2 separate regions of the Homo sapiens genome follow, and region 1 is linked to region 2. Evidence: fine-mapped expression QTL. Tissue or cell type: whole blood. Region 2 holds a variant in brackets; the other region holds the start of a gene. All regions are shown on one strand. Distances are from middle to middle.

Region 1 (5,965 bases), 120 kb before region 2:
TGGTCAGCAGGAGGCTGGAGAGCTGGAAATATCACAGGAGGGCACCGAGCTGCACCTAGTTTGGCCACAGACGAGGTCCCTTTCACTGGCTGGTGGATGATCTGGCCTGGGCTGAGAGTTAGTGAATATAGTCACGGGAGGCTTTCTATTCTTTGTCCTAAAGGTAGAACTGTGAGAAAGACTAACCAACTTTATTCACCACATCAGGTCCAAAGTCTCTGCAGGGACCTGAAAACAGAATGTTTATGGAAGGTCAAAACAGGGGGAGTAGACAGTGACCCCAGAACCCAGCCCAAGGTGGGGAGGTGCTCTGTAAAGACACCTGTCTTATTCCTGAAAGGGTGAAGACCCCCACACATCTAGGAGTGATGCCTCTCTCTCCAGGAAAGAAATACTCTCAGACTGAAGTATCAGAGCACATTCTTCATTTCAACTCTTGCTCCTTTCACAGTTCGGTTTCTGGAGGGAGCTTCCAAAGACTGAAAGGGACAGGTAGGAAAAAAAATGACTGTTTTCTTTGGAGAGGAGCTCCTGAGGCCTGTCTCACTTGGCCATCACCTGGGGGGCTGAGGAACCTATCAGGTCTCAGTTGCTGTCAGCCTAGGGACCAGGATCCCCACCTTTCTTCCCTAGGTGGTGCCTGGCCGCCCAAGGAATCACTCTCTGTGCTTTACTTTAACAGTGCCCTTCACTCCAAAATCTGTCAAAATGAATAGAAACCCAAGAATCATTTCTGTGTGCCACAGGAGTGCTCTCCCCCGGCCCCCCCGCCCCACCCCGCCACACACACACACATACACTCCTGGTGCTGAGATAATTTCCAAGAAATTACCAGTTCCTGGTTATTCTCCTTCCTCCTGGCTCCCTTCCTAACTCCCCCTCCATCACCAGATTACACAATTCCTTGAGCCTATGGTATTTTCCCCTGGAGCTTGTGTTCATTTCCTAACTCAATTAATTCCAGATTCCCTCTCTCACCTTCTATTTTCCCTCGTTTTCACTAGAAAACACTATTTGAGTGACTTTCCTGGTTAGTTGAATTCTTCTCAGCTCCTAAACTTTCTTTTCTGTGTCTGCAAAAGCTTGATGGAGATAACACAACTAGAGAATTCTCCCCACACACTCCAGCACGGATGAACTCGTATTTTTACACCCTCCTTAGTATCTGCAGCCAAAGCAAAGGGAAAACCACTCAGGCATTGTGGGGGAGGTACTCTGAGTGTCTGGAAGATGCCAGGCTGAGAACAGCAGTCATAAATGATATACCCACAAAGGAAAAGTCTCTGGTCTCCCTGGGTGAGATGGCCTTTCTCTGGAAAGGAGGCCACCTATAACCACTTCCTTTGCCCTTTGCTGTGACCTTGCTGTCCCCGGGCGCTGTCAGGGATTGTCTGGGAGGAGGTCGGGGGGGGTAGGTCAGTCACAGGTGGGGACACATTTGAACAGACCTAGACAGGGGAGCCTTATACAGAGGTTCTCTGCTTCCTTCCCACCTCCTTAGGGTATGAAGCTAGATTCCCTGATCTGAATGGATTCCATGGAGACAGTCACCTAGACAGACACCTGGTTTCAGGTGATCCCTTTCTGGACAAGGTCTTTTGTTTTCAGCGCCCCCCCACCCTCCGCCCCAACAATGGCATCTCCTCCTCAGCCCAGCCAGCAGCCCCAGGCTAGCATCTGGGAAGAGTCCAGGGAAGCCCAATGAGGGAGAGTGGGCTGTGTCTGGGATGGCCAGGGATCCCCTCCAAATGGGCACCTGCGGCAGGTCGTGAGTCCAGCCATCTCTAGGGCAGCCCACACCTTCAGCAAGGAGGGGCAGGAGACCTAGAATGGGGGAAATGGGAGGACTAAGATTCTAACGTTGGAGGTAGGGCAGGCTGGTGTTACCTGCACAAGGCCAGAAGCCTCTTCAGGCCGCCTCTCCAGGGACCGTGCCAGCTGTCCCCACTTCGATCAGCCACAGTATTGGACTTGGTCCAGCACGAACAGAAAGCGAAGTGTGAGCCCAAGACAGAGGGGGGAGCCGGACACCCTTATGGAACTAACAGCCTCTGGGGAGGCCTGTTCCAGATCCCGAGTCGGGCGCACAGGGGGATCCCCGCAAGGGGGCAGAGGGAAACCCGGGAGGCCCGCGAGAAGAGGCGAGGCCAGAGGCTGGGCGCGGGCAGCCAAGCGCACTCGCGGCGCCCCGACTCCAGGTAGCACGTAGAGAGGAGGCTGAAGAGCCCCTCGGTTTTCCGAAAGTTTCCAGCGAATCCTTCTTGGTGAAGATCGGCCTCTGGGAGGCAGCGTGTGTGCTTCCCGAGAGGGGGCCCCCTGCGCCGTCCCTCTTCCCCTGGCACAGAAGGGTTGAAGGACTGCACACAGGGATCCCTCCCCAGCCCAGTCTCCTCCCAGCGCGCCCCCTCCCCGCCATGCCGGCCAGCGCCGGGCTGTGTCCCAGGCACTGCCCCCCGCCAACCCTGGCCCGACCAGCCTCGCCGCTGCAGGCTGCCGGGAGCTGCGCTAGCTCATGCTCCCAGCTCGCTCGGTGCTCCCTGTTCGCTCCGGCCCGGCCCCGGCCCCCATCGCGCCGACCATGGAATAGGCGGGCGGCCCCGCGAGGCGCTCCTGCAGCCGGCGAGGCCAGAGCCAGTCCGGGGTGGCTTTGCCAACCGGCGGAGTTGGCCAGCGGCGGGCCCTCCTACCGTCGGTCCTTCCCCGCTCCTCCTCCTCTGCCCCCTCCGCCCCCGCCTCCCGGCCGCCCCCGCCGCCCCCGCCGCGCCGCCGCCCCAGGCCGAGCGCGGGCGCGGAGCGTGGGAGCCATGGCGCGCGAGGAGGAGCGGGACCCCGAGCGCCGGGAGGCGGCGGCGCGGGCGAGCGGCGAGGAGGAGGAGGAGGGAGGGGAGGAGGGACTGGGCGATAGCGACGAGGAGGGCGACGACGAGGAGACGGGCAGCGGCGAGGAGGAGGAAGAGGAGGCGGAGGCGGCGGCCGGGTGGGAGCGCAGCGAGGACGCGCGGCTGCTGCGCGCAGGGCTGCCTCCTGCCGCTGTCCCCGCCGCGGCCGCCCGCGACAGGAGCGGCCGCCGCCCGCCGAGGCCGCCGCCCGGCCGCCCGAGGATGCGGCCGTCCGGCGACGAGGACCGCGCGCGTCGCCGCCGCCGCCGCCGCCGCCGGAGGGACCTTCTGCTGAGCCAGCTCTGCTTCCTGGCCTCGGTGGCGCTGCTGCTCTGGTCGCTGTCGAGCCTGCGAGAGCAGAAGGGTGAGTGCACGCTGCCTGCCCCGAGTGGGCGCTGCGGCTCCGGCGGCTCGGGGCTCCCGGGGCTGGGCGCGGGGCTCCTTCGGGCGGCCCGGCCGGAGCCCCAGGATAAGCGGGCTGGGTTGGCGGGGGGAGTGGGATGCCAGGCACGAGGACTCCCCCTGCCCCACGCAGAGGCATGGAGGTGGGGACCCTGAGCGCCAGCAGCCAGCAGGCTTAGGCGTCTGGCCGCCCTGGGAACATTTACCTGTGCCCGCCTGTGCGCTGCTTACTCGCGAGCTGGAGGTACTGCTGGTGGCGGTGGTGGGGAGTCTTACTCTCCATCAGCCCCCAAGGCCAGGGATAAAGTTGTGGTGGTAGACCCGGCACCTGTGCAGGTGACCACCTGTATACTCCTTGGCTTGCTGAAGGATTCAAGGGGACTGCTTAACACACAGTTGTCCGTATGTTCTCCATCCAGAGAGCAGGCGGGATGGCCCGAGTAGAGAGCTCTTCAACCCCCTTTCAGAACAGGTGCCGGGAACTTCAGGGAGAGAAAAAGTGTTGGCCCTCCAGCTATGGGCTAGTAGGGGACTTGTTCTCCTAAAATGACCACTCACTGGGAAGACAGGGAATTCTTCCTCAGAGGTCCCTTTTGCAGAGCTGCTGCTGTGGAAGAAATGGTTTGCAGTGGACCACGCATCACACTGTCCGCTCCTCTACCGGTGCTCTGCGCAAAGTCTGCCCTTTAACCCACAACTTTTGTCTTGTCTTTGTCCTTGGCCTTTCTTGAGCTGAAATAGATCTTGTGTGCTCCCAACAGTTGTCTGCTGAAACAGCTTCGATCCTGGGATTCAGCTGTCTATAAAATGAAGGAAAAACATGGGAGAATAACTGTTGTAAAATGGTTTTATATCCCGGCCGTGGAAGTGGCACGATTAGTGGGAAAACAGCCATGTAAAGGGTTGTGAGAAAGAAACAAAACAAAACAAAACAAACAAACAAAAAAACAGTTACAAGTATGTGCTGTGGTGTTGAGGTCGACGTAGCTCTAATGCAAGATGTCATGAGGTGCAGAATAAAGACATTTTGATAGTCACCGTAAAATATTTTCAAAGGTGCCATGAATTTAAAAAGGGATCTCCCCCAGCTTGGCTGGTCTCCTGCTTGGTGGGGAAGTGAAACAGGCGTCAGTCTTCATTCAGTCTTAGCAGACCGCTTGACAGACTTCATCATTTATGGTAATAGCAGAGAGTCCGTCTTGGTCTTCAGTGAAGCTGTTCAAGACTCCACGGCTCTCTCCATTGCTCTCCTGGATCTCAGATCCCGTAGCCTTGGGTTCTGACATCAGGAAGGGGGCCGTGCCGGTGTGAGGGAAGCAGAATCTCTCCCAGGGCAGATTCACATCTGCCAGACTTCTGTCTACTGACAGTCTCACTAAGGGGGTTTTCCCGAATCCCATTTTTATTTTCCTTTTTTATTTTTCTCCAGTGAAAAACCAGTTTATAGTTCATGCCACCTTTGGAAAGGGCTATTCCTAGTGGATTACACGCTGGCCATTTTTTTCTGGTATGTTGGGGCTCTATGAGACATAGAGTTCCCACCACTTTCAAGAATATAAAAGACATTTTTTTCTGGGTGAAGGATGTGACTCATATAGTTAAGTCAATCAGTGACAGGGGGCTGCCTGGGCCCTGAAAAGCTGGGATTTGGGAGGAGAGGAGGCCAGACACTCTGCAAACTTGAAACCTGGGGACTGGAATGTCATTTTGGAATGGTTTCCCTGGTAGTGACATTTCTATTCAGGTGCCACTGACTCAGATTTAGTTCCATAGCACGGCCTTTTCCGCATCCCTCCCTCTGTCCTACCTTTCTCCTTCCTACCTTTCATATTCTTTTTTCCTCTCACTTCCTCTTCCTCCCTTCTCATCTCTGTTGGTCTTAGGACCCCTCCACACCCCAGTAACTGAAGATCTAACAGGCAAAAGCCAAATGTTAAGGAGGATGCCAGCCAGCCTCCCTGTGTTGCCCCCGAATGACATATGAGTTGAAATGGTCTCCAATCACTTTTTTTTCCGTTAGGTATTGATGATTTTGGTATGTGATGCACAGTAGTATTTTGCAGCAAGACACAGGTTTTTCTAGATAATTTTTAACATATTAATTAATGTGTGTGAATCTGCAAATGATAATTTTGCAAGGGGAATTGTCGTTTGGCACACGTAAGCATTTGAATGGTGACTTTTACCCTGGAAACTTGGAGCACACACTACCTAGTGGTCCTTTGGTACAGATACTGAAGTTTGGAATGGAGCATTGTTTCGAAGACCTTGTGGTGTAGAGAGGCTGAGTGATTAGCTTAAAGTCACACAGCATTCGAAGAGTAGAGGAAAAAACCAACCTGAGGTAACCTGGTTTTTTGTTCCCTACTCTGTCCTCATATTCAAACCACCATTTGGGTGTAGCTTTGTAATATTTATATAATCTCATAGGGGGTACCTTCATAATGATCAAAGGTAATATTTTCATTTAGTCACCTTGAAAGCCATGCAGTGATTGTTAAATGTAACTTCTCAGAAGCTCGTTTTCTAACACATATTGACCTTTCCCTCCCTCCTTCCTTCTGTTGGCCCTTCCTCCCTCTCTCCTTCCTTCATTCTTTCTTCCTTCCTGCTCCCTTCCTTTCTCTCTTCTTTCCTCTTAAAATGACAGTTCTTTTACCAAAGCAAAATAGAGATGTGTGATA
Region 2 (5,965 bases):
GAGTTGGAAACTCATAATTTTGTAACTATCACAGTAAAGATTGGTCTGATAAAAGTCATCAGTAGATGCAAAATCCATGGGAAAGTTTTGATGAGGATATTTGCATGGTCTTCAAATGCCTCTCATAAGTGTACAGTGGGTAAATATGACAGCACCTTGACTGAAACTTCCTTGTTAAAGTTAACATCACCAAGGAGACCGATGGTCATGGTGCCCTCCACATGTGATACACCTTCCTTTCTGCAGTATTCTGGCAAGGAAGGCATGACTTGAATCTAGTTATGAGGAAGCACCAGAAAAACCCCCAATGAGGAACATTCTATTGAAGCAAGGGACTGTGTTCTTCCAAAATGCTGAAGTTGTGAAAGACAGGAAGGCTGAGGAATAGCTCCACATTAGAGGAGACCAGGGAGGTGGGACAGCTAATTAACCACACCTGAATCAGATCCTGTACTGGAGGGAGAAGTGCTTTAGTGCATATTATCGGGTCAATTGACAGTTTGAAAATGGACAGAAGTTTAGATAAAAGAGTTGTATCAGTGATAAACTTACTGGAATTGATGAGTGTGCTGTGGTCATGTTAGGGAATTCCTTTATTCCTGGGAAATAAGCATTGAAGTATTTAAGGGTGAGGGGCAATGATGCTTGCTACCTACTCTAGAACAGTTCAGGAAAAATGGTATAGATAGATGGATGGATGAGTGGTGGACAGATAGGTAGGTAGGTAGGTAGATAGAGTAGATATGATTGATAGATGGATAGATAGGATAGTTGGATGAATGCATAGATAGATGATAGAGAGAGATAATAGATAGAGATAGAAATGATATAGATAGATAAACAGAATGCTAACAAAAATGAGTACAATATTGACAATAGGTGAATCAGGGTAAAGTGTTTATGGGAGTTCCTTGTACGATTGTTGTAATTTTTCTACAAGTTTGAAATTACTTCCCTGCAAAAAATAGAATAAATAAATCAGGCCCCCTTTTTATTGACTGATTGATGCCTTCTTTCAGGATTGATTGGGCATTGGTCCATCTCAGGCCCCATCTTTCATGCTGTGAGCCACACAGACAAGCTCCTGATTCTCATGAAGCTTCCATTCTAGGGGGAGGTGTCAGAATTAAGGAATAAACAAAGAACAATTAGAAAGCATCTGATTTTGATCAGTGTTACGGAAAAAGGGAATGAGGAATAGGTCGTGATGGGGGTCGATGGGAGGCGTCCTTTGGATCAGGAGCCATGGGAAAAGGAATTTGATTGAGGGAAGGAGTCATTCCTATAACCAGCCAAGGAAGAACATTCCAGGCAGAGGGACCAGCCGCTGCAAAGGCACCCAAGCCGGAGGGAGACGGAGGTGCTTGAGGAACACAGAAGGACATTGCAGCTGGGGATTAGGGAGAGAAGGAGAAGAATTGGAGCGTCTTGCAGGGCTGGACCATCTAAGGTCTTGTCTGCCATGGTAAGGAGTTTAGATTTTATTCTAAGTAGCAGAGGGAGTCCATGGAAGGTTGGAAGAATGAAGTGACATTAATGAATTCATGTCTCCATATATCACTCTGATTATTGTGTGGAGCTTGAATTGTAGTGGGACACTGAGCAGGAACAGAAGCCAGTGGGCCACCGCTGTGGCCTCTCTGGGGACACAGCCACCCCCTCAACAGGGAGCAAGGCAGCTCCCTGAGCCCCCTTGCCTTGTTTCCCCTCGCCAGCCCTCACCCTCATGGGGTTGATGTCTTTAGGAGTATAGCATGATTCCGGCACACCATCTTTTTTTATTTCTTTTATATCAACACATGTCTTTAGTGAAGTCACTCAATGCCTTTCAGCAACTCTAAAAATTTACCAGGTTTCTTTTTCCAACATTACTTTGACACATGCCAAGAATGACAAAAATGCATCTCTCTTCAACTGACTTCTTTCTGCTGTTGAGCTGCCTTCAGTCTTGAGCACTGGGGAAGAATAAATAGAAACCCAGAATGGGACTGAGGAGACCCAGTTCCACAGGGAGAAAACCACCTTGAGGTTTCAGAAGGGTATTTGGGGGTTCCCAGCGCTCCCTAAAATAGGAGAGGTGGCAAGAGGACCTTGGTCCCATGAACACTCCAGCACTACATGGGATACTCTGAGGACACAGAGGCTGTGGCTTTTCTTGCCTGTTGGTGGGTTCTCTTCTCTGCCTCTATCCTGTGCTACCAGCCACCCTCATTGAGAATTTGGAATTCTTAAGTCTAGGGAGCCAGGACAATTTAGGGAGGATGCTCTAAATAGCTTTCTGGTTTTGTCTCCTCCCAGGGTCAGATGAACTGAGGTTTTTCTTTAGCAGGCTAAAGGGGCTGTGTCTGGGTTCTTGTGGCTAATAGAGGGCTGTTTTGTTGTGGGATCATCCTGCCAGAAACTGGGAGGGCCAGGGAAGTGTCCTTCAAAGCTGTGAGTGATTCTTTAAAGAGGGGCAGTGGTTGTAAACCCTTCACACTTCAAGCCATGTGGCTGTCTGTCTGTTTATCTGTCATCTGTCTGAGGAGTGAGGGGATGTGTAGTGGGACAGTGGGTGTCCCTGGAAAGAAATTTATCCCTGACATCAGTAGTTGTGGTCAGACATTCAGTTGGTTATGAAGAGTGGTACCCTTTTATCTTCCCCCCTGGACTTAATATTTATCTGCCCTAATGCATCTGTTCATTACAACCAGGGTGCTCAAACTAGGGGCTGAGAAACAGATTCTGGTGGGAGCTTCAGTGGCCCCAGCAGATGCAGGAGTCTTAGGGGGAAGTGACAGATTTGGCCTGTTGCAAAGAGCGGTGTGGGAAGAGAAGGGAATTGTTTCACCAAAGCGGTTTGTGGTATCAGTAATAATCAGAGAACTAGGGAGAAACGAAATTTTTTAAAAGAATACATTTTTGTGTGGGAATTTGTATTTCGTTGAGCAAACAATATGTTACTGGTGAGTCCAGTCTTGCTAGTGTGTGTGTGTGTGTGTGAGTGTGTGTGTGTGTGAGAGTGTGTGTGTGTGTGTGCAGTATAACTGATTATTTTACTGCCCTGGGGATTAGGTGAGTTGATGACTGAACACGGTAATTCTGAAAAATGGAGGGGAAGGAGCGACATTAGTATAACGATTGCATATTCTGTTGCCTAGCCTCAGTGCCAGTAAATTGTCCTCCACCACACATGACTTGGTCTTTGATTTTTGAATGTAGCCATAAGGTTCTTAAGCTGGAATAATGTGTGAGGTCAAACTGCCTGTTTCCATTTATGGTGAAAGAAGACAAGAAAAGACATGGTTGTGCATCCTGTGAGTATACTAAAAAAGGGTGGAATTGTACATTTTCAATGGTTAAAATGTATGACAGGTGCATTATATCAGAAGAAAAGCTGTTAAAAAAAAAAAAAGACAGCAAAGAGAAATAGACAAGTGTGACTATGAAGAAATCAAATTGTAAAAGTCACACAGGAAACAAAACATGTAAATGGGTGGTCGTTGTCTCCGTGAGTATGGTCCGTTTATCCTAATGACTTGTTATTGGCCAAAGGTCCTGAGAGCCAGACTGTGGGAATAGCTTTCAGAGCCTGGGATGTATTCCCTTCAGTATTCTCAGTGCAGTCAAATGTTGTCCTTGGAGAGTGGCTTGATTTTTGGAGATAGCTAAAATAATTCAAAAGTGGGTTTGGTAATTAAATAAAATGATCAAACTGAGAAATATCAACACAGTAAAAAAA[AT/A]AAAGAGTGCTATGAAGCATACAAAAGTATATGAAGTATATCAACACAGTAAAAAAAAAGAATTCTGTAATGTAAGGCAACAGACTTAATTTTTTTCTGAGCTCTCATATATTGATTCCATAAGTGATCATCTTTTTCACTGGTAAAGTTGGCTAGTTTTCAAACACCAAGATTCAGTGCCAACATCAATGTGACTGTCTTACAATTTGTGAACTACCAGTGAAGTTCATTGTCTTAGGTGGGTTCCTAAAGAAGGCAACCCAAGTCAAGCCAATTAAGGGAATTTCAGCAAGCAGGTGATTGCTGTGGGCAGCTGGGACTCATTGCAATTTGGCACCTCTGGGAGCCTCTGTAGGACACGCCTCAGAGCTCTGTAAGCCAGGAAACATGGACGCTGGGGGGCTCATCTGCTGATTCCCACCTGCCATTCGCTGAGCCCTGCTTCTAGGGGTGTTTGTTGGCACTGCTGGCTTGACCCATCCTGCATGTGGGCTGAATGTCCCCTCCCAGCCAGAAACTAAGCATACAGACACAGGGTTAGCATGTCAGTGGTGAACAGCCTCTGCTGTGCCATATGCAGGAGATAGGCACAGAGCACTGCAGCACCTGGTACTTTAGTCTGAATCAGAACTTTCTTTGATGATGGACATATTCTCCCTCTGCACTGTGCAGTAATATAGCTTGAAATAGGACTGGAATATGACTGAAGAACTAAATTTTTAATATTATTTAATTTTAGTTTAATTTTAAATAGCTACATACGGTTATTGGCTACCATCATGGATAGTGAAAGTCTAAATAGAATATTAGAAAATGAATCCCTCAAAGTCTCATAGTCTCAAAGTTAGGAATTAAGAGGGCTAGAATGAAATGAGTGGTGTCCACGGATATATATCCACTGCCCCTTAAATCTTGTCTTTTCTACTTTAGCTGGATGGGTTTCCAGCTTCTCTTAGCCCACAGATAGGACTTTGTGTGCTCAGCTGAAGATAATTGCTAATTAATGAAATTCAACAGTTTTTTCGAGGACCACTGTAGGAAATTGCTGTGGCCCTGCATCCTAGCTCTGCACACAGAGAACAGTAATTGCTGGAGCCTTCAGTGATAAGGAATTCATTCCTGTAGGACTGCCCAAGTGCTTGACTTAGCCCAGATAAAGGCTGCTCAGGTAAATATTGTTGCAAGGGGGTTACTGGAATTATGCCTCCAGCTCAATGCCCATATTTGAAGATAGTAATGGTTAGGCAATTTTGCCTAGTCCTTTCCAGATTCAGTGTATTGACCAGCTCTTGACTTTTAAGGTGAAATAATTGAAGCTGGCAATCAGATCACTGGGTCAAGGGTATTCAGAAGATTATTCACACCTGTTTCTGAAAAGCATCCTGCATGATCAACAATTCATTTTAAATTGAGTTAGCATCAATTAACTTGTATTGAAAATGGGTAATGATGATGTAGAACATACATGACCAGTGTGTGGGATATTTGACTCATTTCATGCCATCTTTCTCCCTTATTTTGCCCAAGACAGACATTGCTAATCAATCACAGTGCCCTTTCATGTGGACCCACCATATAGCCCCTGGGTCTTTCTTAACACAACATCTCTGGTACATAATTGCAAGTCCATCAAGATGAATATGTTCAGTAAGAAATAATTAGTCATTTCTGTCATAACATAACAATGGGTGATTCAGATATCACTTAGAAGTAAGACTTTAATAGACTACTTGTTGTTTCTTAACTCCAGGGAGTGAGGGCACCAGCATTACTGTGTATTTCCCCTCTTCTCTCTCTGTCCTTTAGGCCAGGGCTCGGGAAACTACCCCCGTTTTTGTGAATAAAGGTTTACTGGACATAGCCCATAGACACACCTGTTGGTTTATGTGTTATCTGTGGCTGCTTTTGTGGTAGAACAGTGCATTCAAGACTGTTTGACCTGCCAAGCCTAAAAGATTTACTACCTTGCCCTTTATAGAAAAAGTTTTCTGACTCCTGCCCTGGGCATTTTTTATTTATTTATTTATTTTTTTGAGACGGAGTCTCACTCTGTCACCCAGGCTGGCATGCCGTGGCTCACTGCAACCTCCGCCTCCCGGGTTCAAGCGATTCTCATCCCTCAGCTTCCTGAGTAGCTGGAATTACAGGCGCCTGCCACCACACCTGGATAATTTTTGTATTTTTAGTAGAGACCAGGTTTCACCATGTTGGCCAGACTGGTCTTGAACTCCTGGCCTCAATCT

Which allele goes with the higher level. Alleles are on the strand shown, and positions count from the first base shown. SD is a standard deviation of normalised expression in the study named.
With allele A in place of AT in region 2, the expression in whole blood of the gene that starts at base 2,901 in region 1 is higher (moderate effect, 0.65 SD a copy in GTEx).

What was found. PIP is the estimated chance that this variant, and not a neighbour inherited with it, causes the effect.
Region 1: SLC24A3 starts here. The variant in region 2 is fine-mapped to the expression of SLC24A3 in whole blood (GTEx, PIP 0.99).

What each region holds. Positions count from the first base shown.
Region 1 is chr20:19,209,742-19,215,706 of GRCh38, forward strand. SLC24A3 (solute carrier family 24 member 3) reads left to right here and starts at 2,901. Exons shown (of 17, transcript NM_020689.4): 1 at 2,901-3,243. The coding sequence starts at 3,102. It overlaps LOC101929547 (a long non-coding RNA gene), which reads right to left and starts at 2,727. Exons shown (of 3, transcript XR_007067549.1): 1 at 1,888-2,727; 2 at 323-700; 3 at 1-228. RefSeq lists a silencer at 3,252-3,301.
Region 2 is chr20:19,330,660-19,336,624 of GRCh38, forward strand. The region is part of intron 2 of SLC24A3 (solute carrier family 24 member 3); the gene reads left to right. Among named protein-coding and RNA genes, the nearest start is that of SLC24A3-AS1, 49 kb to the left of the region's middle. The variant AT/A (reference allele first, on the strand shown) is at 3,722.